3 separate regions of the Homo sapiens genome follow, and all the other regions are linked to region 2. Evidence: fine-mapped expression QTL. A gene starts in region 2. Each other region holds a variant in brackets. All regions are shown on one strand. Distances are from middle to middle.

Region 1 (9,887 bases), 120 kb after region 2:
CAGAACAGAAGTCTCGCTTTGCCTTAATTATCATCAAGAAAGGGTTTACGCCTTAATAACCAAGAAAGGGTTTGAACCATCGTAGCCCTGGTTTCCCAAATTTAAATGAAGTCACTACTGATTGTAAATATGCTCAGGTCATTGCCTGACATAGAAGCTCCAGAGAGTGAAAGTGAATCTCGACTCTCTTTTTAATCCCCAGATAGAGAAACGTGGTCAGAGTCTTCACCCTCATTGCCTTTTTAAGACTTAGAAAAGGAGCTGCTCTACTCTCCCTTGCTACTTTGTGTATTTGCCAAGGGATTACATTGTCAAATTAGGGACCACGTGCTTCACTAATAATGTTTTAAAGGCTGGTCTTTGTAAAAAGCATCTTTGCAAAACCTAGTTATGGAAAAACCAAAGACAATCAGAACTGCATGGAAGGAGGGGGCCTGTACACATATCCCGGAGAATAAAAAAGCTGGGAGTCAATCAGCAGTATTGGGGGTAGGGGATAGCGAAGTACAAATTGTGCCAGGCAACATGTGATTGCTTTTTTCTTCCCCGCCCCCCTCCACTTTTTTTTTCCTGACAGACGAAAATTAGTGCTTCAAAGGAATAGAAGTAGATGGAATATTTTCTCGAATTTTAGAGAAGCATTTGACAAATGTCACATGAATCTTATTGAGGGTGTTCACTGAAATTTGCTCAGAGAGTGGGAGGTGGGTACAGTCTGGGAGCATGAAGTGCTGCTGCCCAGGGAAGCGGTGCAGGCTGGATAGGCCTCAGGGACAGAGGCCTCTCTGGGGTCCGCACATCTCACCCGTGCACCCATGGGGGTGCCTCTCCAAGACCTTAAACTCTTAATATATCTTAAGCTAAAAAATAAATTGGCCAGGCCTGGTGGCTCATGCCTGTAATCTCAGCACTTTGGGAGGCCAAGTTGGGCAGATCACCTGAGGCCAGGAGTTTTGAGACCAGCCTGGCCAACATGGTGAAACACTGTCTCTACTAAAAATACAAAAAATTAGCCCGACATGGTGGCGGATGCCTGTAATCCCAGCTACTCATGAGGCTGAAGCGGAAGAATCTCTGGAACCTGGGAGGTGAAGGTTGCAGTGAGACAAGATTGTGCCACTGCACTCCAGCTTGGGTGACAGAGTGAGACTCTATCTCAAAAAAAAAAAAAAACATCAATAGCTAAAGTTTAAATTTTAAACTCTCAAAACATCATTTTAGCAAAGAATGTTTGCCAATCACAAAATAAGCCCATCTTCTCCTCTTGCCCTGCCACCTTTCAGATGTGGGCTGCTGGACTCCTATGCCAGGTGCACCTCACCACACAGAGTTCATGCTCAAAAAGCTTCTTCATAGAACTATACCTCTTGATGCTTAAAAACACACACAGAGGCCAGGTGCAGTGGCTCACATTTACAGTCCCAGTACTTTGGGAGGCCGAGGCGGGCAGATCACCTGAGGTTCGAGACCAGCCTGGCCAACATGGCGAAGACCCGTCTCTACTAAAAATACAAAAATTAGCCCGGTGTGATGGTAGGCACCTGCAATCCCAGCTACTCAGGAGGCTGAGCCAGAAGAATTGCCTGAACCTGGGAGGCAGAGGTTGCAGTGAGACGAGATCATGCCACTGCACTCCAGCCTGGGCGACAAGAGCAAAACTCCATCTCAAAAAAAAAAAAAAAAAACACAGAAATTTTCATATAAGAAATAGAATTAATATGCATTTGATGAAAATTCAAAATTCACTGCATGGAATTTCAAGTGTTTTGTAGCCATGTATTCCAGTAAATGGGTTTGTATATTTTTCATTGCAAAACAAATCTAGTCAACTCCCTGGTTTCTGTGTCACCCCCCATCTCCGGCTCAATTAGCCTGTTTATTTCTGAAGCCCAGCACCTGCACCCAAAGTACCAGTATGGGGCCTGAGCGGTGAAGGGGCGTTACACATTCTTCTGCTGGAAAATGAGACCATTGTCGAGGGTGGAAGACCGAGTTTGAGGAGGAAAGACAAGTTCCGTTTCAGGTTTGAGGCTTAGGGTTGGCTCTAGAGATTGACACTTTGGAGCTATCATCATTCAGATGCTGGTAACAGCCACGAGAACTCACGAGATGGCCACGGTGTGGAGTGGGGGCCGCAGGTAGAACCCAGGGTTAGGGAGTTGTGGTCAGAGGATGGAGAGCCCAGGAGCACAGTGCATGACAGCCATCCTAACTGTGAGTGCTGGAGTGCAGGGGGCCGCTAGTGTGGCAAAGGGATGTGCTAATAGGAGGGCAGTGTCCACATGATGTAATAATGACTCTTATTGGCCTTGGAGGGAGTCCTTCGAGTGAAGTGATCAAGAAGCAGAAGCCAGAGTTTAATTTTGTTTTATTATCTAGTAAGCATGTTATCCAGTGCCACTAATTATTTCTATTGGTGTGGATGGTTAAGACTTAATATCTAATAGCATCTACCAATGTCAGGTTTCTGGTTTTGACAATATCCTATAGTTATATAAAATGTTATCATTGGGGGAAGCTGAGTGAACGGGACCTAGGAACTCTATGCTATTTTTGCAACTTAATTGTGAGTCAAAATATTCCAAAATAAAAACTATTTTAAAAAGAACTAGTATGGAAAGTCATTTCCAGAGACTCATGCTCAGCCCCAGACACAGGCTCCTGATCTCTAACTGCTCACAGACTCTCAGTCTCCCCAGAGGGCAAAGGCTTTCCCCTTCACTCACCCCTGAACTATCTATCTGTTCTCAGCGGGTCCGGGCTAGAGTGAAATAGCAAGGACTCCAGAGTCAACTGGCATAGGCTGTAAGAGTATTGGTGGTGCTAGCTCATCCCCCTGGAGGCAGTGTTGAGCCTCTGTTGGCTCCGCGGATGTGACCTGGAGCCCCACCATGCGATAGATAGAGTCCCAGGGTTGGCATGACTCAGCGAGTGCATGCGTGCGTCCCTTCCCTCCGCACTGCACTGTCATGACCACTCACCAAGGATCTGCTTTGTCTCTTTCACTTTCAGGACGCTTCCATTGCACACAGATTCCATGTGATGAGAGAGAAACATCCTGAAAAATTCAACAGCAGGTAAGCTGCAGGCCCGGCTGCGCTGCCACCCACCCAGTGTGGCCCTGGCGGAACAGAGGCCTTTCACCTGCTCTCTGGAAATTTTCCCAGCCAGGGCCGCTGGGGACTTGGCCTTCC[TGC/C]CACTTGCCGGAAGGAGGGTTTCCATTTCCAAGAAAAAAAAAAGTGTCAGAAACTTGGCGCAGGCTAACTGCCTGTCCTCTCCCAAAGGATCTGTGCAGAGGGCAGGGCTGGAGGGCAGGAGGTGGGTATGAAGGGCCTGCTTTTGCAGGGGAGGAGGTGGGAGGGCGTCTGCCCTTGTCTAACTGGAACCCCCGTCCTGAGTCTCTGCTGCTTCCAAGTACAGCGCCTCCAACCCCAGCCCCTCATGATTCTTTTGGGGAAGAGCAGGGAGGCTGGAAGAGACCCTAGCTTCTGTCGGTCTCAAATGGGAGGAGGTGGCAGCTCCGGGACTTGGACCAGGAGGACCAGAAGGGTGTCTCCTTTGCCTCCCCCGACAGCAGAGGGCAGCAGCAGAGAGGTACCTGCAAAGGCTGGAGACCCGGAACCCACTAAGTCCCAGCCTCAGCCTGGGCACTCTGTGAAGTCACCAAGTTAGGTTCAAAAATGAAAGGAAAGAGGAAACCAGATCATTTGCAAGAGAAAGCAAACCCTTCTTCCTTGTAGGATGAAATTTGCCAGAACTTAGTTGTGACTGACGTATAGCTACCCCTTTCTCCCTCTTTCCTTCTTTGTCTGTATCTTCTCATTAGTCAATTTTCATTCTTTCTTTCTTTTTCTTTGTTGTACTATTTCAAGATGACCACTATTTCAGACACTGTTCCCACCCCAACCCTAGGTAGGTTGGGAGAAGAATGGATAATGATTTGGACTTTGTTTTTGAGCCTAAAGGTGTTGACTTTTATTTAGCCCACAGAATTGTCTTTTTATTTATTTATTTATTTATTTATTTTTGAGATGGAATCTCACTCTGTCACCCAGGCCAGAGTGCAGTGGCGTGATCTTGTCTCACTGCAACCTCCTCCTCCCAGGTTCAAGCGATTCTCCTGCCTCAGCCTCCTGAGTAGCTGGGACTACAGGCGTGCACCATCATGCCTGGCTAACTTTTGTATTTTTAGTAGAGATGGGGTTTCACTATGTTCACCAGGCTGGTCTCAAACTCCTGACCTCAAGTGACCCGTCCTCCTCGGCCTCCCAAAGTGCTGGGATTACAAGCAAGAATTGTCCTTAAAAGAGAGGTTAGAGTGTTCATTGAAGACATTCATTTAAAGCCCAGGACCCATCATTTTCATCACTGGCCATTTTCATTCCTACTCTTTGTCCTGACCCCACAGCCTGAGAAGTCAACCAAGAAGAAGGAGGTCTTTTTAGAGGTCAGAAACTGAACACTATAGCTTCAGAAAGAGCGATCTGTGGGATCCGATAGCAGCTGAACGAACCTTTTAGGAAGTGCATCCTGCCACAGCATCTTCTTGCTCTCACACACACAGACTATACACACTCACTGCACACTAGGAACACGTGTACTTCCAGCCCCTGATACTATAGTCACAAACTTACAGTTCAGATGATCTCCTCTAACGGTCTTTTGCACTCCCAGATACACACAAACCACTTTTTTAAAAAGTACTCCTCTTCAACCCATTCCTCAGGCTTTTAAGGTCCTCTTTTCACACAAGTATCTTTTTTTTTTTTTTTTCATGGAGTTTCGCTCTGTTGCTCAGCCTGGAGTGCAGTGGCGCGATCTTGGCTCACTGCAACTTCCACCTCCTGGGTTCAAACAATTCTTCCGTCTCAGCCTCCCAAGTAGCTGGGATTACAGGCACCCACTACCACACCCAGCTGATTTTTGTATTTTTAGTAGAGACAGTGTTTCACCATGTTGGCCAGGCTGGTCTCGAACTCCTGACCTCAAGTGAGCCACCCACCTCAGGCTCCCAAAGTGCTGGGATTACAGACTTGAGCCACTGCACCCGGCCTCACACAAGTATCCTTATACGTACTCATGCACATGTGCCATATGCTTGTGAAAGCCACGGGGCTCTGTTCATTCATTCATCCATTCATTCAGCAGATCTTTTGAAAACGTAATGCACACCAGACACTGTTCTACAGGCATTTTGGACAGACGCATGTAGGGGACTCACAGCCTGGTGCTGGAAACAGGCTGGAAAGCAGATGTGCAGAATGGTTTGTGTTAAGTGATGTAACTGGAGGTGACCTATGGGAGCAAAAACCAAGGACACGAAACGTGGCATGGAGGGTTTTCCAATGACAGAGACGCCTGAACCAAGACACGGAAAAAGAGGAGGGCAACACAGGGAGAAGGAAGCAAATGTACGAAAAGATACGAAGGAGTGAGAGGGTGCAGTATACTTGTGGAAGAGCAAGATGTTCAGTGTGATCAGTTGTATGGTCTCGGCAGAGGAAAGAAACCAAACATCTGTAATTCCCAGAAAGCAAGGAAGCAGAGGGAGGGAGAAATTTCTCCATATGCCAAAAATCAATAGGCAGGCCAACATATGACATAAATAGAGCAATCATCCATCACCCACATGATTAAGTACAATTAGAAAGACACATCCGTCAGAAAAAAAAAAAAAAAAAGATTGTAGCGTGCATTTTAATGCAAAGTATGAACAAATTCACTGTGATCTGTAGAACTGTTTTTCCTTCTCCCTTCCGAGATCCTATAAACAATACTTCTCTCTGAGGGTAGGTTCTCAGCTCACTCTTCACCTGACTGAGGTCAAGGTAGCATGGATGACATGGTGACAGGCCCACGGATTTGCACGTAAACCTGCGTGCTCGCCTAACAAACGAAGACAGAAGGGCTGAGGTAGCACCTATTTCACAAGGTCACCGAACGCTTCCTATGAAGAACTTTGCATACATACTGCTTCTACCCTGCCTATTCGCCCATGTCTAAAATACCCAGGAGTGCCCAATTTGTCCACTGAGAGGCAGGCAAGCAGCCATTTTCTTCAGGCTTCCTTATTTAGCATTGGAGATGGTTTTAAATAGGCAGGTGGTTGTTGCCATGGTTACCCCATTACACCAGCGGCTAAACTTAGGAAAGGCCGCAAGGCATAGGAAGAAAGCTTGATACCCAGGATTTGGAAATGTAAACGGCATTATCAAACAAGGCCTATTTTACTCAGCTGAACTGAGGTTCTCCAAAGAGTAGTTACTGCTTGGCCGGAAGCCTTTACCATTACTGCCCAGGTTTGGACTCTCAGGGATAATCTTGAGGTTAAATCTTGGGAGTTGTCATTGCTGTGTTTTGTTCTGTTTTGTTTTGTTTTCAGCAAGGGAGAGTGACTAGTCAGGTCCGGAACACTTACCAGGAAACCGGAATCATTCACGTTGCTGATTCCCTTTTCTTGGCTATTCTAACAAGAATTCTTAACCTGGGATCCAAGGGCTTCAGGGGTTTTGAGAACACCTTGAAATTGTACTAAGGTACTGAATGTATTTTTCTGCAGAGAATGTCCATAACTATCAGAAGATTCTTAAAGGAACCTATACTCCCAAAATGTTTAAAAGTCACAGGTCTGAGGCCTCTTTGAATCCTAAGAGGCATCAAATTATGACTCAAATGTTGGGGTTTCAGGAAATTCTTCCTCCATGGCCTCTCTAGATGGGTTGTTGCCAGGGAAGATAGTGGGTTCCAGAAAACCAAGTTATGTTCTCTGATGGAATAGTTTCATTAATGGAGCAAGAACCAGAACCGAGGAGGCAGGAATACGAGCCATGTATGATGGGCAAAAAAGAAAAGGCCTTTAACGGCAGAGATGGGGTTATTTTTGGCCCTGTCTACCTCCTAGTTATCAATAGGCTAATCATTAATTGCTAATTGAGGAATGTTAGGGAGATTATCGTCTCACTGTTGGCATAAAGAACAAAAGAGAAATTTGATTCAACTGAGATTCTAAAGTGTTTGAAAGTGATCTGGAATAAAGGGCACATAAGATGTGGCCCCTGCCTTCAAGGAAATCGTCGTCTAGCAAAAGAAAAGGAAAAATAGTGCTCAAGTATTCTTTACAAAATTATTTTAACATACAAGGTGGTTACATTTCATAGGTGATATAGTATACAGGAAGTCGTATAATATGTAAGAACTTATTAATGGTCATATCCCAAACATCATTTGCAAATGGATTGTTTTCTTTTTGGGGGATGTTTTTGGTCTTTTTTTTTTTTTTTTTTTTTTTAGAAAGAGTCATTCTGTCACCTGGCCTGGAGTGCAGTGGTGTGATCTTGGCTCACTGCAACCTTTGCCTCTCAGGTTCAGGTGATTTTCCTACACAGCCTCCTGAGTAGGTGGGATTAAAGGCACACACCACCACGCCTGGCTAACTTTTCTTCCTATTTTTAGTAGAGATGGGGTTTCACCATGTCAGCAAGCCTGGTCTTGAACTCCTGACCTCAAGTGATTTGCCTGCCATGGCCTCCGAAAGTGCTGGGATTACAGGTGTGAGCCACCACTCCTGGCCAAATTGGTTGTTTTAGGTGTAGCAATAGTGTTAAAGGGGAACCTGACTAAGAACTGTTTTCATTTTTTTAGCTCCTCCTAGATGCCAAGTGGTGAACTAGGGTCTTTAAATACATTAAATTATTTAAATCACAAAACAACCTTTCAAGATAAATATTAGCATTCCCATTTACAGATAAAGGAACTGACACTGGAAGAAACCAAGTCAACTAACAAAAGTCATGTATTTTTTAGGCAGTGGGGCTAATTTAATTTCTGACCTAGCTCTTCACTCCAGAGTCCAAGCTCTGTTTGCCGCAACTGCTGTCTCACATAGATTTCATTGAGCAAGCACTGATGTATACCAGACACTCTGATAAGTACTTTATACATCATCCCACTCATTGCTCACAATAACATGCAAGGGTAAGTGCTACTGTCCCCATTTTAGAAATGAAGGAACTGAGGCTAAGGAGGATGGAGCTGTCATTGGCATCATCTGCCTTTATGGATTGTCTCTGTGGGAAAATGCCTGCTGAGTTCCAAAGGGGAGGAGAACAGGTACACCATCCAGTCATACCTTGTATGGTGTGAGCATTCTCCCTGTTTCCACGTCCACAGCAAGGAGCAGGACTGGCTGTATGATCTGTGTGACCCAGTGCAAAATTAAAAATGTGAGGCCCCTTCCTCAAAAATGGGACAGCAAAGCATTAAACTAAGCACTGAGCCCTCTTAAGTGTGGGGCCCTGGAGTCCACATCTCACACCTATGAGGTGGCCCTGGCAAGGACAGAGGAATTAATAAAAAGAAGACACTTTTGCCAGTAGTCACAGAGTAGGGTGTTTGCAATAAAGTCAAAAGAATGGAGGAAAGAGGGTTTCAACTTAGGGAGAAGGAGAGGGACTCTCAGTCCCACAAACAGGCAGCAATCAGTACTAGCAGAGGAGCCAAGAATCCCGTCAAAGTCTTCCAGATAGCCAAAAACCAGCCCACCATGAAGTTTCCAGATTAAGTCTCCATGAAGGGTTTTGCATATGAAATCTATACATAAAAGCCACCTAATTCTAATGTCACTGTCAGTGAGTGTCTAGAAAGAGAAGTCTAACTGTGGAATGTTTTCATTGTTGGTTAGAAACTCAGAGTACTTGCGGAATGTGTTATTCTAAACCTGTTGAGTGTATCCACTTGACCGCGTCTCTCAGCAGTTGAGGCTGAAGCAAGTTATTTCCTGTTAGGCCCTTCAGAGGGACCGAAGCAGTGCTTCATTCCTACTAGAAGCTGACCACCTTTCTCAAAAGCCCTTGACTAATTAACAGGTTCTGAAATATTAGCTTTCTTGGAGCAGGTCCCATGGAGTCACTGATGAGGGGCTCCCCAGAAGCCCTAATGTAGCTTGAGTTTTTAAGAGGTTGGAAATATACCTTGTAAATAACTAAGCACTTAGTAACTATTTATAGAAGAAGGCAGCAGGGTATAGAGTAAGTTGGCATCAAAACTTGGCTTTGCCGCTTATTAGCTATGTGACCTTGGGCAAGTTAATCTTCTTAATCCTTTGCTGCCTCTTTTGAAAATCTTGCAATGTTGCTATAAGTATTTAGTGACATAATACCTAAGTTCATAGTACACAGGAGGTTCGCAATAAACATTTGTTGTTGAATATCATTGAATAACAAGCATTGCCTTAAATTGACGATAAAGTATTGACAATAAAAGGGTTGTTTTTAATGGAGTGACAAATTGGATTCAGTTATCACAGAATCAATGCTCCATTGACATGGCCTTTAACCTGAAAAGTTGGAGGACAACTAAAAGTTGGAGGAGACCCCAGCAGTGATGCATTGAATCTGCCCAAATCCTTCTCCTGGGGGTGGGAATATGGCACCACTTTGGTTGGTTTGGATTCTACAGGACAGAAGCTCTAGAGGAAATCCCCTTCACTGGCTCCATGGAAGTCCAAGAGGCAGAGGTTGGGGATCTGGACACTAGAGATTCGAAGTCCAGTGCCAAATCCAGGCTAGCAGGATCAAGGGAGGGGGTCATAGACCCCAGGTGAAATGGCCTCAGGAGGAACAGGGCAGGAGTGAGTAAAGGAGAGTGGCAGGACAGATTCCATGTGCTCCCTGGGTGCTTCTGGCTTACTAGCAGGGGTCATGGACTGCATGGCAGGTAGGCAAGTGGCCCTGTGGTCAGATGCTGGGGATGTGACTAACCCTCCCTCACGGATACTTCTTTCCCCTCACCCACCACGTACCTCTCCCCAACCCTGACCTCAGATAAAGACAGAGATGTTCTGTGGGGAACAAAATAGAAACCGACAAAGCTCAAGTCACACAGTTCTG
Region 2 (11,424 bases):
GCCTATGCCTAAGTATTATTATGTCCCTTTTAAGGATGAGGGATCTGAGGCTTTGAAGGCTTTTGAACAAAGAGAGGGGGCTTTGGGGTCTAAACTCTCAGAAGTTACTCTGGCAGCAGCAAATGAGAAGAACAGATGAGAGAAGTGCTGGCACTTGGGGCTCCCTCAATTGCTAACATGTTGTGACATTTTGTCCCCCCAAATTGGTTAACAGGAGATAAAGAAGTGACCAGGATTTCTAAAACTAGACTGATCTTTTCAAAAGTTTTGCGGGCTGGGCAGGCTTTGAAGCAAATGGTCATTTAGGGAGTTAGAACCTTTTCCCCTCTGTGGCTCTTCCCAGCGTTTCCTGTGAAAAGCTTCCCCTCCAGGGACAACAGTGAAGAGTTCCACGGCGGTGTCTCTTGACCAGACATAGCAGAAAACAGACCTGGAGTAATGTAGTGAACCCAAATTAGCCTTTTTACAAGCTCATTAAAGCATAAAGTTTAACATCCTTTGCCCAAAATATAACAGAAAGAAGAAAGCCTCCTTTTTTCTCCCTACTCACTCACGCCTCCTTCCCCTCTTTCCACCATCTGTCTCCGGATAGGCAAGCATCAAAGCAGGATCTTGGATGGGTAGGTGTCTCCTTCACTGTCAAGTAAACACAATCAAAGTTCCTGGGAAATCCACTGTGGGCAACTCCAGTGACACTGTAGAATTCCAGGCAGGGGGCAGATGTGCACTCTGGTAGTCCTGAAGTCCACCAGCATCTTTCATGTTAAAATATTACTATATTTTAATGTGGTGTATAAAGAGTTGCTGACCTGAATTGCTGTTTCTTAGGAAGCAGACACATTAGCAAGTAGTATAATAACTAGGCTTTAAAAAATAGACTACCTTAAGGGAACAGACTATCTTCAATAACTGTATTTTACATTTTTGCATAGCACTTCTAAAACACTTTCAAATAAGCTTCTTCATTTAATCATTACCTTGAGATGCATGTATTACTATCCCCACTTTGCAGAAGAGGAAATTGGAGCTTAGAGACTCAGATTAGCTCTTTTGACTCCATCTAATTCTAAATTATCTATTTATTATTCTGAACCCCATGGCTTCTCCTTTGTGCTTTCCTTCAAGCTTATCAGTTGATATTGTGAGAATTTTCCCAGCTTGCCTTGTGGAGGGCCCCACCCAGGCAAGGGGGCGGTACTTAAAAGTTGTTCAGTTGCTAGTACTTAACAGAGTATCAGTGCCAGAAAGGGTTGTAGGGACCATTTCCAGCCTCCTTATTTTCTAAGAAAACTAAAATGAGGGAATCTCCTGCCTACATTCCCAGGGCTGGATCCCAAATCCCATTCATGGCAAAACTGTGACCAGGAGCTCCTGGTTCTCCTGTTTCCAACCCACAGTCTCACTCCACCACAGCCTTCACAGTCAAAACCAAGAGGAAAGTTAAGGTTCGGACTTGGCTAGTATCTGTTCCCATCCTGTCATTGCTTGATAACATGGAAAGATTCCATTAATTATGAGATCATAAAATATTAGGTGGAAGACAGCTTGGAGATAATCTGGTATAATCCTTTGTGTTCTGTACATGGGAAAAGTGAGGCCTAAGAAGGCGAGCAGAACCCCCCCGGCCCACCTTGCGGTTGGTGACCCTGAACTCAGCTGTGCTCCAACTGTCAAGTGCTGTTCGCTCAGCTTGTCAGAGACAGTGGGACTAAAAATTTCCAGACACAGGTACCTGACTCAGCCCTCGCTTTGCCTTGGCAGTGGAGATCAGGCATCAGCTGCTGGCTTGGATGATGTGTTCCCAGAGCAACATGGTGAGTGTGAGCTGCCAACATTGAAGTCTCAGGGAATGTAAAGTGTTGAACCAGTTAAACATCCAAAAATGCCCCGTCTCTCAGAAACAAGGGTGACTCATCACAGCGCTTGGGCTACAATTGGGAATGGCATTAGGGTGGCTGTGGCGGCTAAAAATCCATGCTTAGAAGCCCCCAGCTTCGTTTCCTCTGGCTTTTTGTTCGCAGGTCTTTTCTCTGGCTGAGAACCAACATACACATGCTCCACTGCCAAACCCAGCCCTCCTCCTCCATGAAGCCTGCCTTGACTCTTTCAGCCCAGAGGAGGTCTCCTTTCTCAAGCCCTGAGAATCTGCCCTGTGCAATTTGGCACTTGATTCCATACTGTCGTTCACTGTTTCTTAACCAGTGGAGCGTTTGTTTTATAACTGACATGGATTGCAAAATCTTTGAGGAGAGGCACTAAGCTTCCTCCTCTGTACCCTACAGTAAGTCTCAGGGTGTCACCACAGAGCAGAGACATGCTCAGACTCACAGATAGTCCTGACCTCAAGACTCTTTCTGCTTTACCTTATGTTTGCACATACAGCAAATGCCCAATAAATCCTCACTTGTTTCACCGTAGCTTCAGCCTTTTCAAATAAAGAGCTCAGTTGCAGGGCCTCTGTCAGCCCATGCAAATTAGAGAAAAGGCATCCCTCCCTCCAGGCAGACATAACCCTAACAGGTTGTGTGGCTGGGCAAGTGGGGCATGAGTTGGATTTCAGCCCCTTAGCTGGGTGCCCTCTGCAGCAAGCCACATAAGCCACCTGGGCTCTGGCTCTTCGTGAGAGCAGCAACAAGGACTCCCTCCCCACAGTGCTCCATTCTGATGGGGAAGGCCTACCTTGGGAAAGCTGGCATCAGATACTTCCCAGCTTGCTTCCCAGCTCATTTCCCATCAAAAACAAACAACAAAAAATCCACACCTGCCATAGCTCCTCACTGTGGAACCCAAGTCTATGCTCCCAGAAGAGCATTTGGAGACTCCCACAATACTGTCCCAGCCTTCTTTTCTTGTGCTGGGAAGACCCAGAACTCACCATGAATTGTCCTACGTCTCTGCTTTTGCTTTCTCCCAGCCTAGATTGCCCTTGTCCTGTTGATCTTTAAGTGAGATCTCTATTCCCCTTTAAAATCCGATCGCAAACCCTACCTCCTCCATGATGCCTCCATTAGCACTAATTGTTCTTGGTGCTTCTTCCCGCCCCATCCCTCTTTGCCTTCCACATTGCTTCAGCCTCTACTACCACCCTTTTCCTCCATGTTATTAGCATGTAACTCAGTCCACACAGCCTTCTCTGAACTCCTTCTGCAGCAACTCAGATGCATCATTTGGCTCCATCCTGATCCTAAAGGAATCCATTTGCAAGCAAACCGATGAACAATATTGACTTTACAAATGATTTCTTTCATAGGACCGGGGGCTTTCATAGCCCACCCCACAGCAAACTACTTACCAATCTTTGCAAGCATCTCCCCTGTCCAAATCCCTGGACAACTTGGCAACCCTGTTGCCTGTTCTCAGGCAAGTTGCTTGGCAACCCTGTCCTCAGAGCTCCTCCCCTCTCGTTACCCTTCCCCAATGTGCTCTCAACGAAGCTAAGGCTCCACACTCAGTCTCTGCATGTCTTCTTCATTTGTTCCATTCAATTTATTTCCTTCCTGTCCTAATAGGCAGAGCAACTCAATGTTGTCCTAACACCTATTTGCAAACATGTACCCCAAGTCCATTATGATGCTCAGCCAAACACAGGGTCTCCTTCAGTTTAGCCTTCTTTAGAAGGAGTCAAGAATAGACAGCCAGAATGTTTTTCTTGTGACATGTATGTGCATTTTCCTCCATTGAGCATGCAGTCAAAAAAAGCAAGGATTGTGTCTTCCACATCCATGCAACCTAGCAGAGTGAAAATATATACCAGAAACCTGTGCTCAGGGCTCCTCTCTTCCAGGGATGAGGACAGTTCTAAGCCCTTTCTGTCTCTCAGTTCTTCTTTCCTCCCAAGTAAGGCCCAGGACTGGAGTTACGGGGAAGCACCTGAAGACAGAGTAGGAGTTTAATAAATAGCTGTAAAATGAATGAGTCAGTGACTGAAGAGGAAAAAAAGAAAGGACAAGGAAGAACTTTGAAGGCACCCTCACCAAGATTATTTCAGCCTAGCTGAAGGAAACTTTGAGAAGCCACCCAGGGTGATAGAATGGATAAGACCCAGAGGATAAGAGGAGTCGCAAACACGGGGTTCTGGTATCAGCTCTGTCTTCATCACTGTGTGGAATCTTAAGGAGATCTCTCAGCTCTGTTTCTCATCTGTCTCACCAGCCTGCCTGCAGATAGCCTAGTATGGACACCACCCAACAGGGTCCTCAGGGCTGTTTGACATTCGTGTTTGAGGCTTCTTCCCCAAATGCACAGACACCCAGAGCCCCTCGGCGCCTCCACACTCTGCGGAAAGCTTTTCTTGGCTGCAGTGCTGGCCCGGGGACCTTCACTGCCCACTGGCAGAAAAGAATTCTCGGCTGTGGAAATGAGTAAACTCCACATATTTTAAAGATGACAGTCTAAACTCCTAATGACTCTAAATGTGGTGTGAAATGGACAGCAGTCATCTTGCTGTGTGACATGCCTGAAATAGTGTCACCACCACCATCACCCCCTCACGTGGACATGCACGTCATGGAAAGAGAAGCAACAAGTCATAGTGCCTTGGCTAATGTAGCTCCCCTATTCCCCCCGACCCCTCACCCCAGCGTCTTTTCTGTGCTCTTCTACATTTTAAAAAAAGAAGAGATCTATTTATTCTGCAGGAATACAGTCCAAGGTCACCTAAAAGCAAAGGAGAATGGGAATTAAACACACCCAGAGACCCGACCCATCCAACAGAGTCCAGCTCAGGCAGGCTGTGCCAGTCTCCACCAGGCTACGAGGGGAAAACCTTTTCGAGTTGAACTGCCACCAATCCACTGCCACCGAAGTCAAGGTTGTCAGAAATGACCCTCTGGACAGGGCTAGTGATTTGGATCCTAGAGATACTGAGTTCCTGGGAAACAAAGAGAACTTGTTGATTTTGTATTTTTATTTTTTCTTCGATTTGGTCGGGATATTACGGTAGCCTTGACCAGAGTTGAGAAAAGGAAACGCCCAGTCGGTATTTATTTGTCAAACAGTTGTCCTTTGCCTCCGGGGTCAGGGGCCCTCTGGTACCCACCACTGTTGCATCCTCTCCACACTCCTAAGCCTGTAACTCCTCCTCCCAAACCGAAGCCCTGTCAGTAAAAAGCGTCCTAATGATGCCCGCGCCCTAGTTGCACCAAAGGGGGTCAGGTTCCCATCGAGCGGATCCACATTCGTGTGTGCGCACGCGTGTGCATGTGTGGAAGCGCGTGTCTGTGTGTGCCGTGTGTGTACGCGCGCGCGCCGGTGTGTGTGGCGGGGGCGGGCTCTGCGCCCGGGGGCAGGGCTCCGCAGTGAGAGTGGCAGCTGGACTTGCCAGGCTGCGAGGGGCAGGGCACAGAGCCGCAGTGCCGTAGTAGCGGGCCACGGAGATAGACAGCTTTGGAGCTGCTGAACTCCGAGCACAGGGTGAAGACCCCGGCGCTACCAACCACAGCCTGGCAGCCTGGTCTCCGCGGCACCCACTGGGGCTGCATCCCCCTCCCCCGAGAGGGCTGCGCAGGCGGGAAGACGCCCAGAGGCCAGCTTCGGTCCCCCTTCTGTCTCTCGGTTCCTCTTTCCTCCCAAGTAAGGGAATAAACCGCGAAGAAGGAGCGCCCCGGGCCACCGCGCAACCAAGTGTTGCCTGGTGAGGTAAGACGGCGGCCGGCGCGGCGGAGGGGGTCCCCGGCTCAGGGAGCACCCGGTGCAGCAACTTGGTAAAGGAGGGCAAAGCGGGAGCCGGTCCCGCGGCCAGGGAAGGGGCTGCAGCCAAAGCCACGGCGCCCACCCCGACAGTTCCACCTGCCACAAAGCCCTGCAGGAAGGGATGCCCCGCTCGAGGGGTGCAGGCTTGGGGAACGCACAGGGTGGGGCTCGGCTCTCTCTGCGACTGAGAGGCCCCCTCAAGCCTCAAAGCTGTGCGGGTGGGAGGCGGCCTTGCTCCAGGCAGTTTGCTAAAGCAACTGGTCGGATTTCCTTCTTCTTCTGGACTTAACCTTGGCTCCTTGATATCCAGTTCGCGCTCCAGGCAGTCCGAGAAGCAGGAGATGCTTTTCCTAATGTCTGGCCGCCAAAGCCTCCGACCGTCCCGCGGGGTTCTAGGACTTTGGGGGCACTCCACAAAGCCCCTGCGCAGGGCGACTTAAAGGGAAGCTGAAGCGAACACGGACACCTCAGAGAATAAAGGAGGGAAGGGTCGAATCTGAGGTTGATCTGTGTAGTCTCAGAGTCACAAGATGTGTCCGTGTGTGTGCTTGTGTCCTGAGGAGTGCGTACCCGGAGTCACCTGTGGTGCTTTCGCAGACTCCACCGGTCCACCTCCCCTTGCCTAGTCTGAGATTTTCTTCGTTTGAACTAGTGGAATAGAATTAGGGGAGGGGGCTGTGGAGTTCTAAAAAGCCCTACAGGTGATTTGACGTGCTGCCCCCATCCCCACCATCACTGCAGTGGAAAGCTTGGGACTAGAGCTAGAACCACCTCCCAGATGGGAGGGATGAGCTGCGGAACTCAGGGTGGCGGTCGAGACCCCTCCCCCAGTCGCCCCCCGCGGCGGGAGCGTCTGCTGCAGCGCGAAGCGATCTGTGGCTGCGCCGCAGTGGTGCCCGGGAGCGCTGTGAACCCGTGGGCGCGCTCTCCCGCGCTGCGCCGCTGCCTCCTCGGACTTCATTAGCATACGATGACCTCTCTGTGGGGAGGAGGGCCTGGGAGGGCTGTTTGTCATTCCTTTATTTTGGGGGCTTGGCGACGACACTTTGGATCTGGAGGTGAACACCAGGGGTCATGATGAGAGACAGTGGTCAGGACACAGGACTGGAAACGACCCCTCTGGTCTGGATGGGGGAATCAACTTTGTTATTTTGGTGCTTGGGATTCTCTGTCTGTAAAATACAGCTGGCAGAGCCACTTGCTGGCACACAGGGCACCCTGGTTGTCAATGAAGGAAATTAGATCATAGAGGGCAAATGTCGAGGTTTGGTCATGAACCCAGGCACAGACACACACCCCTTTATATTTTATGTCCCTCTCACTCTCATTCCAGGCATGTGTCTAACATGGGAAGGTACTTAACTGTTTGTCATATTAAAAGACTACATTTGCTGGAGATTCCATTCCGAATATGAATTATACTCCTTAAATAAAACGGCTGCAACTAAGCCAACTTCCCGGTCGTACTCCTGATCTATGTCTTTTTTGCCAATCACCCTTAACGTTTACACCCAGCACTATAGGCATTACTACAGGTATTTTTCTGGGAGGGGCTTTAGGGTGGGAAGCTAGTAGATGAGTCTTTCCTACCTTAGAATTTTATGGAGTGGTTGGTTCAGATCAACCGAGACATGGGGAGAAAACGACAAACATCAGCGTGTCTTGAAATCTAGACTCTCAGAGATGGGAGTAACTACTAAGATCATCTGTTCCAGCTCCCCCAACTGCTCCAACTCCCCACACAACACCATCAACAGATGGTGAGGATCCCTCCAACCCGGACACTCCCAGAGGCCCAGGCTGTGCATGTGTGAGCCTCTGCGAGGAAAGAACCCAGAAGCCAGCAACTCTCCCCTCTCCTACTGATGGGAGTTGGTGGATGCTGGCCCCATCTCCTCCCCTGGAAGAGAAGGGGGAAAAGGGCGGGGAAGTACCTTTTCTTTGTGGTAAAACTTTAAAACTTTTAAAATGTATATCTTATTGTATTACATCATTATAATGTACTCTTTTAGTATAAAAGTAATTCATGTTCATTGCCTAAAAATTGGGAAGTTGAAAAGTATGCAAAGAACAAATCAATCACCCATGATCCTACCACTCCCATCCCACACTGTTAATATACTGGCATATTTCCTTTCCATCTGTTTTTATGCCTCGAAATTATACAATCCATAGAGAGCCAGCATTTATTGGGTGCCTAATAAGTATACTTTGCATGGTGTTAAATTTTATATTCATTATATCCTTTAATCCTCAGGAGTCCCTCTGAGGTGTTATTACTATCAATCCCATTTTTCTAGGGTTGCATTTTTCTAGGGTTCTAAGACTTCAGGTGACTTGCCCAAGTTACATAGCTAGTATGTGGCAGAATCAAGATTCAAACCCAGGCTGTCTGACTCAAAAGTATGGTTGCTGAGCCCCTGTAGCTATTGGTTCTCTGCTTTTTTCTGAATTAGTGTTGTAGCAAAAGACCTTCATGAACATTGTTTTCCTGGCTGCATATTATTACACTGTTAGTTATTTAAGTTGCTTCCTGTCTTTAGCAACTACAAATAACTCTGGGCAAAGTCTTTACTGCACACACTTCCCATTACTTCCTTTGGATAGATGCCTAGAAATAGATCACCAGGCCAAAGGGCATGAATGTTTTAAGGCTCACAGTATATATGAGAAGCCACTTTTCAAAAAGGGTACACTAATTTAGGATTCCATTCACCAGAAACAACTCGGCCATAGTTCAAGCAGATGACCTTTAGGAATCCAAATAGGCCAAGGCCTCACACGACCAAGCCACATCACACGAGCATTCTTCAGTCTCATGGAAGAAGGAATCACACATATCACCTTGCTTTATACACTCGGGAGGGATTATGGAAACCATACAACATAAAGCTATACCTATTTTTATGTGAGCAAGTATCAGCTGCAGAATTCTCTAGCTAAATGTCACATACTAACTTTGAACAAATCAAACCATCATGTAAAATATACAAATGTGTATAATGTCCCACTTCTCCATACAAGTCATTATAACAACATTCACTCTTGTGAACGTGCATCATGATCACAGCCAGGTTCAGCAAGCTTAACCCATCAGCAACAGCTTCCTCACATACTGGCCATATTCAAAGAGTTGTTTATTTGTACCAAGTATCAGAATTCCACACCCAACCATAGTGAGAGCTGATGTCACTTTATAAGTAACAGAGTTTGTCTGACTAAAAAAAAAAAAGAAATCAAGGCTAGTAACTATTAATAGTAATAAAACAATTTAAAAATAAAGTTATACCCATCATTTAAAAAAAATGTCCTCAGGTGGAAACAAAATGTGGCTGGCAGAAGAGAGATTGAATTAGGCAATACAAAACACACACACACACACACAAAGGGTTAGAAGAAAACAAACTGGCCCTAGCTATGAGTTGTTCCTAGAGCCTCGTTGATCTCCAAGCCACCTCTGCCACCAGCAGTGGGTTTAGTAGCCCTGGAATATAATCTGTTGTTGCTCCCACTCTGAGATCAATTTATGCAAGATTCAGCTCAGGTCCGGAAACATCCTTCAGGGAAGCCCACCCTAGAGATGTCCTGAATCCACAGCACCTGTGCGTAAGCTTACCTCGCTATGGCGAAGTCACTATTTGCATATCTCCCACTGAACTATGAGCCCCCTGAAGGCAGAGACCATGTCTAATCCTTTTCTGTATCCCCAGCACCTGAGATAGTGCCAATCCATAGTCAACAATTAAATGTGACGAATGAACGAATAAGAGAATTTTCCAGGTCCTGTACTGGATGCTTTACGTGCATTTCTCTTTCAGCATACCTTTATTCTGCTCAGGCTAGTCAGTCCCAGAAATATACCTGAAAGGTGTCTAGAGCTGTGCTGTCTGTTTTCACATGTGACTATTTCCTGTTTAACTTTAGTTCATTAAAATTAAATGAAATTTAAAATTCAGTTCCTCGGTCACACCAGTCACATTGCTAGTGCTTACATGCAGCATGTGATTTCTGGCTATCATATTGGAGAATGCACATTTAAAAGATTTCCATCATTGCAAAAAGTTTAACTGGACTGTGCTACAGTGTAAGCTTGGTGCAAGCAAAGTGTGTGTCTATGTCTGTCTCGTTTTCCACTGTATCCTCTGCACTAGCACAGTGCCTAGCCCCGAAGAGATGAGGGAGAGAAAGATAAAGGAGGGATGGTGGTAGTAAATGTTGTGGTAATATTAGCAATAGCACTTACTGGGCACCGACTCTGAGTCCCACATTGGGCTATGTTCTGTGCACGCATAGCTTCACCTGATATTCACATCACTACACTCCTGGTATTAACCCCATCTCACAGATAAGGAAACTGAGTCTCAGAAAGTTTCAGTAATTTGCCTATGGTCACAAAGCTGATAGGAGAGACTGAGATTGAAACTCAGGTCTATATGATTTCAAAGCCTTTTCTCTTTATTTATCTTCTCTTTTTTTCTTGGACCTTTTGCTTTACTGCCTCAATAACTGCTGTGTGTTGTGATGTGGATTAGGATTGCCACCATCTTGGCTTCCTGGGAAATCACAGAAAGGGGACTTTTGAAAGCTTTCCAAGAGAAACAATGGGTATAATTTATGACTCTGAATCACATATCAAGAGTGCAAAATTTTGCTCAGGGTCTTAAGAGAACCTGTCCCTGGATGGGTGAAGGAGGGAGAAAGGAACCCATCCATAGTGTGGCCTGACCTGATTTCAGCGTGTCTTGAAATCTAGACTCTCAGAGATGGGAGTAACTACTAAGATCATCTGTTCCAGCTCCCCCAACTGCTCCAACTCCCCACACAACACCATCAACAGATGGCGAGGATCCCTCCAACCTGGACACTCCCAGAGGCCCAGGCTGTGCATGCATGAGCCTCTGCGAGGAAAGAACCCAGAAGCCAGCAACTCTCCCCTCTCCTACTGATGGGAGTTGGTGGATGCTGGCCCCATCTCCTCCCCTGGAAGAGAAGGGGGAAAAGGGCGGGGAACCAAAAACCTACAAGAGCAGACCAGTCAACCACCATAGTCTGTGCTTCTCCTCAGGGAGTCCTGAACCAGCTCTTAAGATCTCGCAACCTATTAATGGGGTAACTTGGCTCTCAAATCCCTGGCCAACGCCCTTTTCACTGCTCCACCCTACCTCATGGGCCATTTGCTCCAGTGCCCTCACTATTATTATCATCACTCTTGTCCTAGTTTTCTCTAATTTCTTTATTCTTAAAGAATAAAGTGCAAAATTTCAAGGGAGTCCTAATCAGCATGGAGAAGACTGAAATTACCACCTCCTCATTCTATTTCCTATTTCTATTAAAACTCTTTAAGGTCTAATTAAGAATCTATACCATTGACACCTGTTGAGCTTAATATCAACTGAAGTAACCCAATTCTCTTTTAAACTTGCTCTTGAACTGCATTGCCCACCTGCTCGCCTTCACCCGATACTTGCCCACACCCCCTCACAGCCACTCTAGAGACTGTGCATTGTTTCTCATTTTATCTTGTTCAGTTCAGTCTGCCTCGCCAACTTGCCCAGATATTTCTGGCTGTGATTCTAGCATCCAGTGTATTTACCGGCCCTCTCAGCCAGCTTCCTGCCATCTCTGAATCTGATGAGCACGACCTCTTCATCTAAGTCATCAATAAAAATAATGAACACTATGGGATTCTGAGGCATTCCACTGTATGTTCCCTAAACATAGATATTAATTCAA
Region 3 (11,424 bases), 64 kb before region 2:
AGCCTGCCACCTTTTTCCCCACTACAACAGCTTTTGCTGCTCGGTGTGGTGCCTCATGCCTATAACCGCAGCTATTCAGGAGACTGTGGTGGGAGGATCATTTGAGGCCAGGAGTCTGAGACAAGCCTGGGCAACATAGTGAGATCCTGCCTCAAAAAACATAAATTAATAAGTTATATGGCTACTTTATTTTAAAATAAAATATGTATATTATCTTCCTCAAGTTGTTTAAGCTAATTGACTGCTCTTCACTTACCATTTGAACCACCTATTTTACTCTACAGCATGTTTTCACTTTGACCAAAAATAAAATCATTAGGGGAATAGACATATTAAGGTCACAGAAGTCTCAACAATAAAATAGGTACTGCTGAGAGCAGAGATAAGGAGAGAAGTAGAAACCAGTTTCTTATTCCTCAGCATATCTCTAGAAACTGCCATCTCTGTATTACTAGCAGCTTATCCAAATCCCCAGTGTCAATAAACAGGATGAGGATTCCGTCTTTGGATGGCTGGCAAATGAAAAATATGCTCTTGTGTTTTAAAGTGAGTGTCAAAAGTGATATACGAGGGGAGCCCGGAGTCCCTTTTCTGTCTCCATGGAGGTATGTGGCAAGTCCTCTCCTAAGTGAGAAGCCAAACTTAAGCCAAACCTCCCTAGGCACACTCCAAGGAAATACCAGGGCCAGAATTAAGGCTGCCCGAGAGGAGGACCTGCAGGAGCCAGGGGCTTACTCAGGAGCAAATCCTTTGCCTTCGTGGGGAAGGAAAGCGATTCACCTAAAAACACTGTAAAACTCTGAACACAAGGATTGATTCACTTTGTCTACCAAACCCTTCATTTTGGGTGGCTAGGAACAGTATAAATTGAGTACCTTTATGCATTCTTACCGAGCAAAGCTTTGTGGAAGATACAAAGGTGACCTCTGTTCCCAAGAAATCAGACATCGCAAACTCAGATGCTTGCAAGAGTCAGAGAGGTAACATGACTGAGTGAAGAGACCAGATCCGTTATAAGAAACCTGAGAATGGCCACTGCCATTCAGCCTCAGAGTCCAGGAGACAGCAGCAACTGAAGCAGCTGGGCACCTGGAGACCCCACGTCTCTTTCAAAAGGTGCAGCCACCACTCAGATCCAGAAGGTTATTTCCATGAAGGCCCAGTATTGCCAGATGTTACGATTTGTGAAGAAAATCCAGAAATGTAGGTTTTTATTCAAAATGGCCCTTTTTTTTTTTTTTTGTCACAGAGTCTCACTCTGTCACCCAGGCTGGAGTGCAGTGGTGTCATCTCGGCTCACTGCAACCTCCGCCTCCCAGGTTCAAGCAATTCTCCTGCCTCGGCCTCCTGAGTAGCTGGGACTACAGGCGCATGCCACCACGCCTGGCTAATTTTTTGTATTTTTAGTAGAGACGGGGTTTCACCATGTTAGCCAGGCTCGTCTCGAACTACTGGCTTCAAGTGATCCTCCCGCCTTGGCCTCCCAAAGTGCTGGGATTACAGGTGTGAGCCACCACACCTGGCCAAAAAGGCCCTATTTTTAAAGATTGGTAAGTGACTATTTTTTCCAAATTCTGTGCCCTTCTAACTCTGTGAGCCAAAAAAGACATCTCTGTGGGCTGGACTCAGTCCTTGGGCTTCCGGCTTCCGGCATGCACCTGGATCCTAGACTTGTAGTTCACACTACTCCAAAGATTTCAGGGGGCAAATTGGGTTTTGGAACATCCATAAAATTGAAGAGCAACTGTTTACCTCCAAACAACTCCCAGAGCCAGGAGGAAACTTAGAGTTCAAGTTTAACTTTTAAGTTTAAGTTTCTCATTTTACAAAAGTGGAAACTGAAGTCCAGAGGCAGTAAAAAAGGTAATTAAGGCCCTGCTCAAGGCGAGGTTTTTGTCAGCCTGCTGAGAGCCACCATATATATTTGGAAAACAAGTGAGGCAGTAAAGGCATTTAACTGGCCACCCTCTTTCTTGCCACATGCTAGTGAGGCCACGCCTCAGGCTCCTGGAATGCAGCTTTTGTGCCTAGGCTGTTTCTAGGTGGGTGCCCTGGGCCTGAGAACCTTGTTTGCCCCTGAGCCCACTAGAAATGTTTTACAGCCCTGTCGGGGACAGTGGGGTTGGGGGTGTCGGTGGGTTGGGGGGGTCGGTGGGGTGGGGGGGGTCGGTGGGGTTGGGGGGCGGGGTTGGGTTAAATGTGAGGATAACATTTTGATTCATGACAAAATGAGACCAGTCCAGAGAGGGGGTTATAAAGGGTCTGAATAGCTCCCTCCAGGTTTTTGAGCAAATTAGCATTCAACAGTGATTTAAGAGCTAGGGAGGTCTCCCTCTACCTCCAAGGAGACTTGTCTTTACTTTCCATCCCCTGGGAGTTTCTGAAGGCAAGAAAAGGCCACTTCTGCCACCAGACCACTAGTCTGCCTTTGTTTGGCCATGCCTAAGAGAAGAACAACTTTCAGCTTCGTAATGTGGATATATTTTTTAAATTGCATTAGGAAGTTGTAAAGTAATGAAATACTCCATGTAGAAAAATCTGAAATATAAATAAAAGCATATAGAAGGAAAAATAACTATAATTGAACAATCCAGAAACAATCTGGTATCATATTTATTTATTTATTTTTATTTTTTGAGATGGAGTCTCACTCTTGTCGTCCAGGCTGAAGTCCAACGGCACAATCTCTGCTCACTGCAACCTCTGCCTCCTGGTCCAAGCAATTCTCCTGCCTCAGGCTCCTGAGTAGCTGGGGATTACAGGCACCCACCACCATGCCTGGCTAATTTTTTTATTTTTAGTAGAGACGAGGTTTCACCATGTTGGCCAGGCTGGTCTCAAACTCCTGACCTCAGGTGATCCTCTTGCCTCGGCCTCCCAAAGTGCTGAGATTACAGTGTGAGCCAGCACACTTGGTCCATATTTATATTGGATGTACATATACAATTATATACATGTAACATGTGGCAAGATGTAATATTTATATACATATACTTTATAATTTTAAACATTAAGATTTTATTTATACTGTTTGGTAAACTGTTTTCTACTTTATTGTGAGTATTTTTATACATTTTAATTATTATTCTTTTTTTATAGCTTTACAACATCCCAAAACATTGAATATCAGACTTTATTTTGGTGGTTCCTTTGAGGGGATCAAAGACTGCTTAACTAGGAAGTTTCTCATAAAATTTAATGCCAGAGTCCTGAATCTTTTCCTGAAAAAAAAAATAAATAAAATAACTGCTTTTGCTATCTCCCAAAGCCTGGTAATAGTGAGGTAGAGTCTCTTAAGTGGAGAGAGGAGAGATGGACACAGATTTAAACCACAACACCTTCCTGGGATACTCACTAAGTAATTTTCAAAAATCGGTTGGTCCCCTCACTGGGATACTTGGCCTGAAACACTCACACTGAACCGAGAAAATAGCCTAAAGTTAGGGTGACGTGGCTGGGACTCTGGCTGCCATTACCCAACACAGCACACCAACCCATTGACACTGACACTAAAAAATGGGAATTCCTAATGCAAAAAGTTGAAGAGGATGTTGCTGGCCCTGTGCCACTCTTCCCTTGCACACGGCCTCTCCCAATAGAACTCCTGTCGACAGGCGTGCTTTGCAAAGCCTCATCTTGATATTGGCAGAACAATCATTCTGAACCTGATCCTGAACACCGACTGTTTGTTTCTGTGTAGAGACTGCCGGTGTCCTCCTGGCTGCAGGTCCACAGAGTGAACAGGGCCTTCTCCAGAGGCAGCCGGGTCCTTACCAGAAAGAGTCCACAGCAGACCCAGGACAAAAAGATTGTCTTTCAGGTAAGAAGCACAGTAAACACAGGACACCTTCCTGCAAGGGAGGGTCATTGCCTTTGAGGATTCACTGACTTTGGTTTTCCTGCAAAAGGCCACTTATCTTCATTCTTCCCCTGCCCCCTTCCCCAGCTGCAGAAGCTATTTTTAAATCACCCTAGCAACTGGAGGACACAGGCGAGGCCTCCTGTGATGCTTCAGTCACCAGAGACTGAGCAGGAGGGTGCTGGGAGAGTGTGGCTGCCCTGCCAGGAACCGCAGTCTGCTTCTCTTTCGCCTGGCAGAAAGGCGTCCTCATAGTACATACAGACCCAAGTTCCTCACCTCACCTCTGCCTTTGTTCCTAACCTTGCCATTGTCAGTTTGTACTGAGATGACTTCTCAGACTTTAGCTCCCAGGGAAAACTGTGTGGGCTGAGAAACCTCTGAGGTACTTCTGTGCTGGGCAGGTTGCAGGCAGGGCTGGTGGTAGAAGTGGCCCACCCCCAGTGCAGTAAATAAAAGCATACATAGTCTCTAGAGAATTTTTTGTTTTGTTTTGTTTTAGATGGAGTCTCACCCTAATGCCCAGGCTGGAGGGCAGTGGTGCCATCTCGGCTCACTGCAACCTCTGCCTCCCTGGATCAAGCGATTCTCCTGCCTCAGCCTCCAGAGTAGTTGGGACTACAGGCGCCCGCCACCATGCCGAGTTAATTGTTGTATTTTTAGTAGAGACGGGGTTTCACCATGTTGGCCAGGCTGGTCTCGAACTTCTGACCTCAAGTGATCTGTCCACTTCAGCCTCCCAAAATGCTGGGATTACAGGCGTGAGCCACCACGCCTGGCCTAGAGAGTTTAAAATCAATAATGAAACTGACTTAAAGCGGACTTACTCTTTCCTACATCATGGGGCAGCAGTTCCTTTGTCAGTGATCAATACTCCTCTATGGTCCCCTCCCTGTGTGCCTGCTGCTTTGGTGGCTATCCTGCTGGGAAGCTAAGACATTCCTCAGCTCAATCACTTCTATCCAGTCCTTTGTGCTGGAGCTTGACTATTAGAAACAGAGACCTCCCTGGCTGCATGGACAATTGCAACCATGCACCTGAAATGCAAAGTGTCTACTGTTTGAGGAACTCTTCCTTCCAAGCCCAGAAAAAAGTGAATTACTGTGAACTGGCCCCCAAAAGGCCTTCTCCCACCCCTCGTGATAAGCCTACTCACAGAGATTCACTCCTCCAGGTCCTGAATGGAATGTGTCCTTCATAATTCCTCTCCAAAAGGAATTACCACTTGAGCCAAAAGCACTCATCCCTCAGAGGG[G/T]GTTAGATTGACCACTGGAGGGCAAAGGGAGGTGAAAGGAAGATGGAAGAAGTAGTCACAAAAAATTTTCATTTGCTTACAAGTTTGGCCTGGGACCTATCTGTGCGTATTTTTGGCTCTGAGACCAAATATGTAAACACAATAAACATATGCCAAATGAAGGAAATCTTATTGCATGGTCAAATTTCATGCCATGCCCCGAAGGGATATTTTGTAAGTGCAGTGAGTTCCGAGGATACACAGGCATTTGCTAAATTGGGGCCTTTGGTGGCATTTACTCTTTAAAGGAATTATTTGCTCTTTCTGCATTTTTATACTACCCCATCTGGAACTTTTCCCTTAACCTCCCTTATAAGTCCCTCAGTTGAGTTAAATTCTCTCTTACTTTGGTAAAAGCACCATTCACACTGAGGTGCGTAAGACGCAGGAGTTCAGGACCTTGGCAGTCTGAAAATACACTTGTGGTTTGGATTAATATTCTCTTTTTCTGTTTTTAATCCTCTTGCATATTTACGTAAGACTTTTCCCCTCTGGGGTTCCTGTTGCTTCTTAGCTGTGATCTGTTCCTCCCAGCTTCTCCTAGAGGCAGTAAATGGGTATTGCCATGCCATTCAGGACCAAGGAGGATCCTTCTTCATGTAGTGAGTCCAGGAGGCTTCAGCACTAACAGCCCCTCACTCCCCATCCCCAGGCAACCTTGAGCTAGTCTCTTCTTCCATCTCTACCCAACTTCCTTGCCATCCTGCACTAAGTTACTTTAATAACTCTCTGGCTTAGTCAGCAGTGTCGCTTACGACCATTGCCTGAGAACAGATAGGATACTTTCACAATCAGTGTAGTCCAGGCACCAATCAGTCAGAATGAACATTCTAGAGCTGCAGCAGTGACCTTCGGGGCCAGGCATTCACCCTGGCGGGAGTGGGCAGAGGTCTGGGGAGTCCCAGTTGAGGAGCTGGGGCAAATGGGATAGCTGGTAGCATTCCGGTGGTTCAGATAGCAGTTCTTTTCCAAGGAATACAGAAATACTTAATCATTTTTAACAACTGGGGCAGTTTTGGCTGTGTGTATTGCCCTACCAAAGAATAAAGCTTGGGATTATTATTAGATATCCCTTGAGTGAGGACAAAGGTAATTTACTCAATTCGTTTGCTGCCTTTATGCAGATTGTGAGCAAGTTGGGAGTCTTGCATAAATTTTCCTTCAAAGAGGTTGAGAGCAGCCTTTCTCTTCTCTCTGAAGTTCGCCCTAAAAGTCATGCCTATTCTCCTTGTGTCTTCTTTAGTTGACCCCAGGTTGCACCTGGTTGTATCATGCCCCCCTCCCCCAACCCCCTGTCTCTTCCTTCTCTTTTCTAGGAGTTCAAGCAGCTTACCGAGGCTTAAAATAGACAGTAATAGCAGCTCTCAGTTTGTTATTTTGTATGTACTCCGTATCCTTAACACTTGTCAAGGATAAAAACACACTCAAGAAACACACTTTGCTTTCAGTAACTTCATTTTTCAGAGAAAAAAAAGTAGACGGAGTCAGCTCTCAAGACAGCTGTAGCTGTATATGCAGGTATAGCACTACAGAAAACCAGCCAAGCAGAACCACAGAGGCGTGACCCACCAAAGACTGAGCTCTGCCTCCTCCTGCGCAGCCATGGCCACCACTGACCGAGCACTGCCCAACACCTGATCTTTGTTTGTTTTGAGATGGAGTTTCGCTCTTGTTGCCCAGGCTGGAGTGCAGTGGCGCGATCTCGGCTCACCGCATCCTGGGTTCAAGCGATTCCCCTGCCTCAGCCTCCCGAATAGTTGGGACTACAGGCTCGTGCCACCACACCCGGCTAATTTTTTTTTTTTTTTTTTTTTTTTGTATTTTTAGTAGAGGCGAGGTTTCACCATGTTGGCCAGGCTTGTCTTGAACTCCTGACCTCAGGTGATCCACCCACCTCGGCCTCCCAGAGTGCTGGGATTACAGGCATGAGCCACCACGCCCGGCCCAACCACCGGATATTTATGCCCGTCTGGGACCCTCAGAGCTTTCTCAAAGGGATTCCCAAAATAACTCATTTTAACACTTGGTTTTTGGCCACTCATTCCTTAAGCCTAATTCCGCTAATCACAGTTACTTCACAAGAACCTAAATATGCACTGGGTTACCTCTGTTGTACGTTTCAAGTGATCATGCCACCAAACTTTGCATCCAGTGTCTTCTGTTGTTCGTGTGGTCATATCAGTCTAATTTTACTTTTATTGTTAGTTGCCTGACGTAGGACGTTATTTTAGATTCTGCGTGAGATTGTAACGTTCACTTATATGCTTGTTGTAACTATCTAAATATTTCAGTGGAGTAAAAAGGCTGATTGGCACAGGAATGTCCAGCTGATGAACAGGTCATTTAGGATTTCCTTTCTCTGGACAGACAGTCAGAACCACTGTTGGAAGGGGAGGCACCACCTTGGGAGCTGATTGTTCTTTTTGTCAGATGGTTGGCCTGGGAAAAGTAAATCTGCAGAAAGCTGTTTCCTCCTAATGTAAATTCTAAACTTGACATTAGATAGCTGCTCCAACAGTATGAGATTCCCCAGAACTCAGCATAAAACTTACTACCTTTTATGATCTGTTGAATGTGAAAGAAAATTTGTTTGGCTATTGGTTTCGAGACCAAGATGACAAACAGCCCTCCCATGATATTACCCTGAAAACATTTGATTCCTTTCAGTCAGTGGATAATCGAACCCAAAAGGTTATTAGCTAATTCTTATAGAAAATTGTTCAAGTTATCATTCTTGGTCTCTTCTTGAGGTAATGAAATTCATAGCTGTAGAAAGTATTGTGTTTTTAAGCTTCACTGGTCTTTCTTTATTTTCTGGCATTTTGCAAACATCAGTTTGTTCTCTTCTGAAGGTTAACACTTTTATAGCTGATCATATTCCATGTCAAGCCTTTCAATTTCTAGACTGGGCCCATTTTTTTAAACCCTGGAATCATGTGGCAGCATTTCTACCCTCTGACATAAATCCTTTAACTCAATTGTGTCTTCCTTAACATTCAGCAGCCAGGATTTGGCTCACAGCTTCCTAGTCTGGAGGCCCCCATGGTTTTTATAATGAGAGGATAGTGTTTCTGATTCATATTTCATTCAAAGTAACCCACATCCCATTAGGGGTAATTGATGTTGCCCAGCCTGTTTTACTGTTTTTGGCTATCACACTCTCTAGAGTCTAGAGGCAACATCTTTTGTGAATATGGTGACTCTCAAGTCACTGCCCTTTGTCTTAACTGGTCCTTTAGTTGCCTATCACCCTATAAACATAATTTGGTTTACCTAAAACACTCAGCTTTATAAGATTATACAAGAGCTTGTTCCCACTGAATTGACATTCACAAACTAGAGATATTTAGTATCAGTTTTATTTGTTTCTGCATGACAAAATATTCTGAGGCCAATCTCTGTTCTTTTTACCTCCTCATTCAGAAAAATTACCCTTTTATTTTCATGCCTTTTATTTCCTGTTTCTTAGGCATGTCCCTGGCCATAATGGAGGAAAACTGAGTTATCATTAATATAAGGGAAACACTGTGACAGACTTTTCACAGATCTTGTTACAGGGTTTTGAAAATATCAGTAATGTCTAATAATTCATTTTCTCATGAGTGCTCCTTACCCCTCAAAAAAATATGGTGTGTGGCCAGGAATGGTGGCTCACGCCTATAATCCCAGTACTTTGGGAAGCCAAGGCAGGTGGATCACTTGAGCTCAGGAGTTCGTGACCAGCCTGGACAACATGGTGAAACTTTTTCTCTACAAAAAAAATACAAAAAGTTTGCCAGGTGTGGTGGTGCATCTGTGGTCCTAGCTACCCGGGAGGCTAAGGTGGGAGGATTAATTGAGCCCAGGAGGTCAAGGCTGCAGTGAGCTGTGAACGCACCATTGCACTCCAGCCTGGGTGACAGAGCAAGACCCTGTTTCAAGTATATGTATGTATGTATGTATGTGTGTATATATATATATATACACACATACATGTATATATATATATATATATATATATATATATATATATATATGTATATAGTGTGTAAGTCTGGTTTTAATTTTAACTTATGAGCAATATCCTTTCATTCCTTTAACACCCATAGATTTGCCTAAGCACTCAATAATTATATCTTTCTGTCTAGCATCCATCAACTCACCTAATATGACTGTAGCTTCCTATGTTTCAGTAGCATAGCACCAAACTTCCACATTCTTGCATTTTTTATTCCTGAAAGAAACACATAGATTACCTGGTCCAAGTTTTTCACTTTATAGATGTGATAACTGAGGCCCAGAATGCTGAAGTGACTTGATTGAAGCTGCAGACTGAGTTGTCTCCAAGACCAAGTTTCTCACCAACTCTCCAGCATTTCAATATGACCATTTAGATTTTCAGGTGCCTGTCATTTATAAGTAAGCATTCAAACATTCTGACTTGGCATTTCTGCCAAATCCCTCAGAGGCCAGTTGTCCAAAGGGTTGGGCCAGTTACTCAGTTACCTCCATTTTTAGCCTACCATATAGCTTCTTCCTAAATAGTCTAGTAGGTTCTTGACATGAATCATGAAATGATTCAGATTCTATTCTTGGGCAGAACATATGCAGCTTGTTACTCTCTGCATCATAGTATAGTTATATACTATTGACATGTATTTCTCCTACACTAGACAGTAAACACCTTAAGGCAGTGATTCTTCATGATTAGTATCTTAGATTGTAGCAGGTACTTGAGAAATCTTTGAATAACTGAATGAATGAAAGACCCACCAGGGACACATTGGTAACCACATTGTAATGAACTATATGTACATTTAACTGTCCAGTAAACCCAAGTACAGGTCATTCAAATGGTTTTGGCAACTGACATCCAAATGTAAAAAAGAGAAATGTGATCCATGCCTGGTATTATATACAAAACTCAACTCAAAATGAATCAGATCTAAGTGTAAAACTTAAAACAACAAAATTTTTAAAAGAAAACATAGGAGAAAATCTTTATGGCTATAGGTGAGATGAAGATTTCTTAGCTATAACACCAAAAGTATAGAAAAAATAATAAATTAAACCTTTTCAAAGTTGAAACATCTGCTCTTCAAAAGATACTGTCAAGAGAATGAAAAAACAAGGTCGGGCATGGTGGCTCATGCCTGTAATCCCAGCACTTTGGGAGGCTGAGACAGGCAGATCATCTGAGGTCAGGAGTTTGAGACAAGCCTGGCCAATGTGGTGAAACCCCATCTCTACTAAAAATACAAGAATTAGCCAGGCATGGTGGTGGGCACCTGTAGTCCCAGCTACTCAGGAGACTAAGGCAGGAGAATTGCTTGAACCTGGGAAGCAGAGGTTGTTGCAGTGAGCCAAGATGGGGCCACTGCACTCCAGACTGGGTAACAGAGTGAGACTTCATCTCAAACACACACACACACACACACACACACACACAAAATGACAAAACAACAAGAAAAGACAAGCACACAACAGAGGAAAATATTTATAAAACACATATCTGATAAGTCCTTAATACAAAGAACTCTCCAAACAATAATAATAAAGCAAACAATCCAATTTTTCAAATTGGCCAATTTCAGGAGACTCTTCAGAAAAGAAGATATGTTGGTGGGAAGTAAGTACATGAAAATATGTCAACATCATTAGTTATGAGGGAAATGCAAGTGAAATGCATTTGAAAAACCATGAGCCGGGTGTGTAGGTCTATTAGAATGACTAAAAACAACAATAAATGCTGGCAAAGATGTTGAGCAACTGTGACTCTCATCCATTCCTGGTGGGAATGCAAAATGGTATAGCCACTTTTGAAAACCATTTGACAGTTTTACAAAGTTCAACAGACACTTACCACACAATGCAGCAATCCTACTCATAAGCGTCAAGAAAGAGAAGGAAACTTTATGTTTATACAGTAACCTGGAATAGGATGTTTATAGTAGCTTTATTCACAATCATCAAAAACTGGAAACAATGTTCTTCAACCAGTGAATGGATAAACAAACTCTAGTTCATCCACACAATACAATACTAATCAGAAACTTTTAAAAAAGTATTGACACACACAACAAAGTAGACGAATCTCGAGTTGAATTATGGTAAGCGAAAGCAGGCAGATCCAAAAGGCTACACAGTGGGTAATATATGGCATTAAGGAAAAGGCAAAACATAACAGAGAAAACTGATCGGGAGTTGACAAGGACTGAGAATTGAATAAGGGCTTACCACAAAGAGACACAAAGGTATTTTCGGGGGTGATAAAAGTATTATGTGTCTCGAT

Which allele goes with the higher level. Alleles are on the strand shown, and positions count from the first base shown. SD is a standard deviation of normalised expression in the study named. Not every link is listed here.
For the expression in monocytes after LPS of the gene that starts at base 5,349 in region 2, allele C in region 1 goes with a lower level than allele TGC (moderate effect, 0.65 SD a copy in Quach 2016).

What was found. PIP is the estimated chance that this variant, and not a neighbour inherited with it, causes the effect.
Region 1: its variant is fine-mapped to the expression of DGKG in monocytes after LPS (Quach 2016, PIP 0.95). The same link has a PIP of 0.9 or more in monocytes after Pam3CSK4 and monocytes after R848.
Region 3: its variant is fine-mapped to the expression of DGKG in atrial appendage (GTEx, PIP above 0.99).

Annotation. Positions count from the first base shown.
Region 1 is chr3:186,235,694-186,245,580 of GRCh38, reverse strand. DGKG (diacylglycerol kinase gamma) reads left to right here. Exons shown (of 25, transcript NM_001346.3): 20 at 3,013-3,077. Among named protein-coding and RNA genes, the nearest start is that of DGKG, 120 kb to the left of the region's middle. RefSeq lists an enhancer at 3,278-3,327. The variant TGC/C (reference allele first, on the strand shown) is at 3,195.
Region 2 is chr3:186,356,159-186,367,582 of GRCh38, reverse strand. DGKG (diacylglycerol kinase gamma) reads left to right here and starts at 5,349. Exons shown (of 25, transcript NM_001346.3): 1 at 5,349-5,637. RefSeq lists a silencer at 5,190-5,279 and an enhancer at 6,064-6,581.
Region 3 is chr3:186,420,396-186,431,819 of GRCh38, reverse strand. No RefSeq gene overlaps it. Among named protein-coding and RNA genes, the nearest start is that of LINC02020, 14 kb to the left of the region's middle. RefSeq lists a silencer at 6,801-6,890. The variant G/T (reference allele first, on the strand shown) is at 5,115.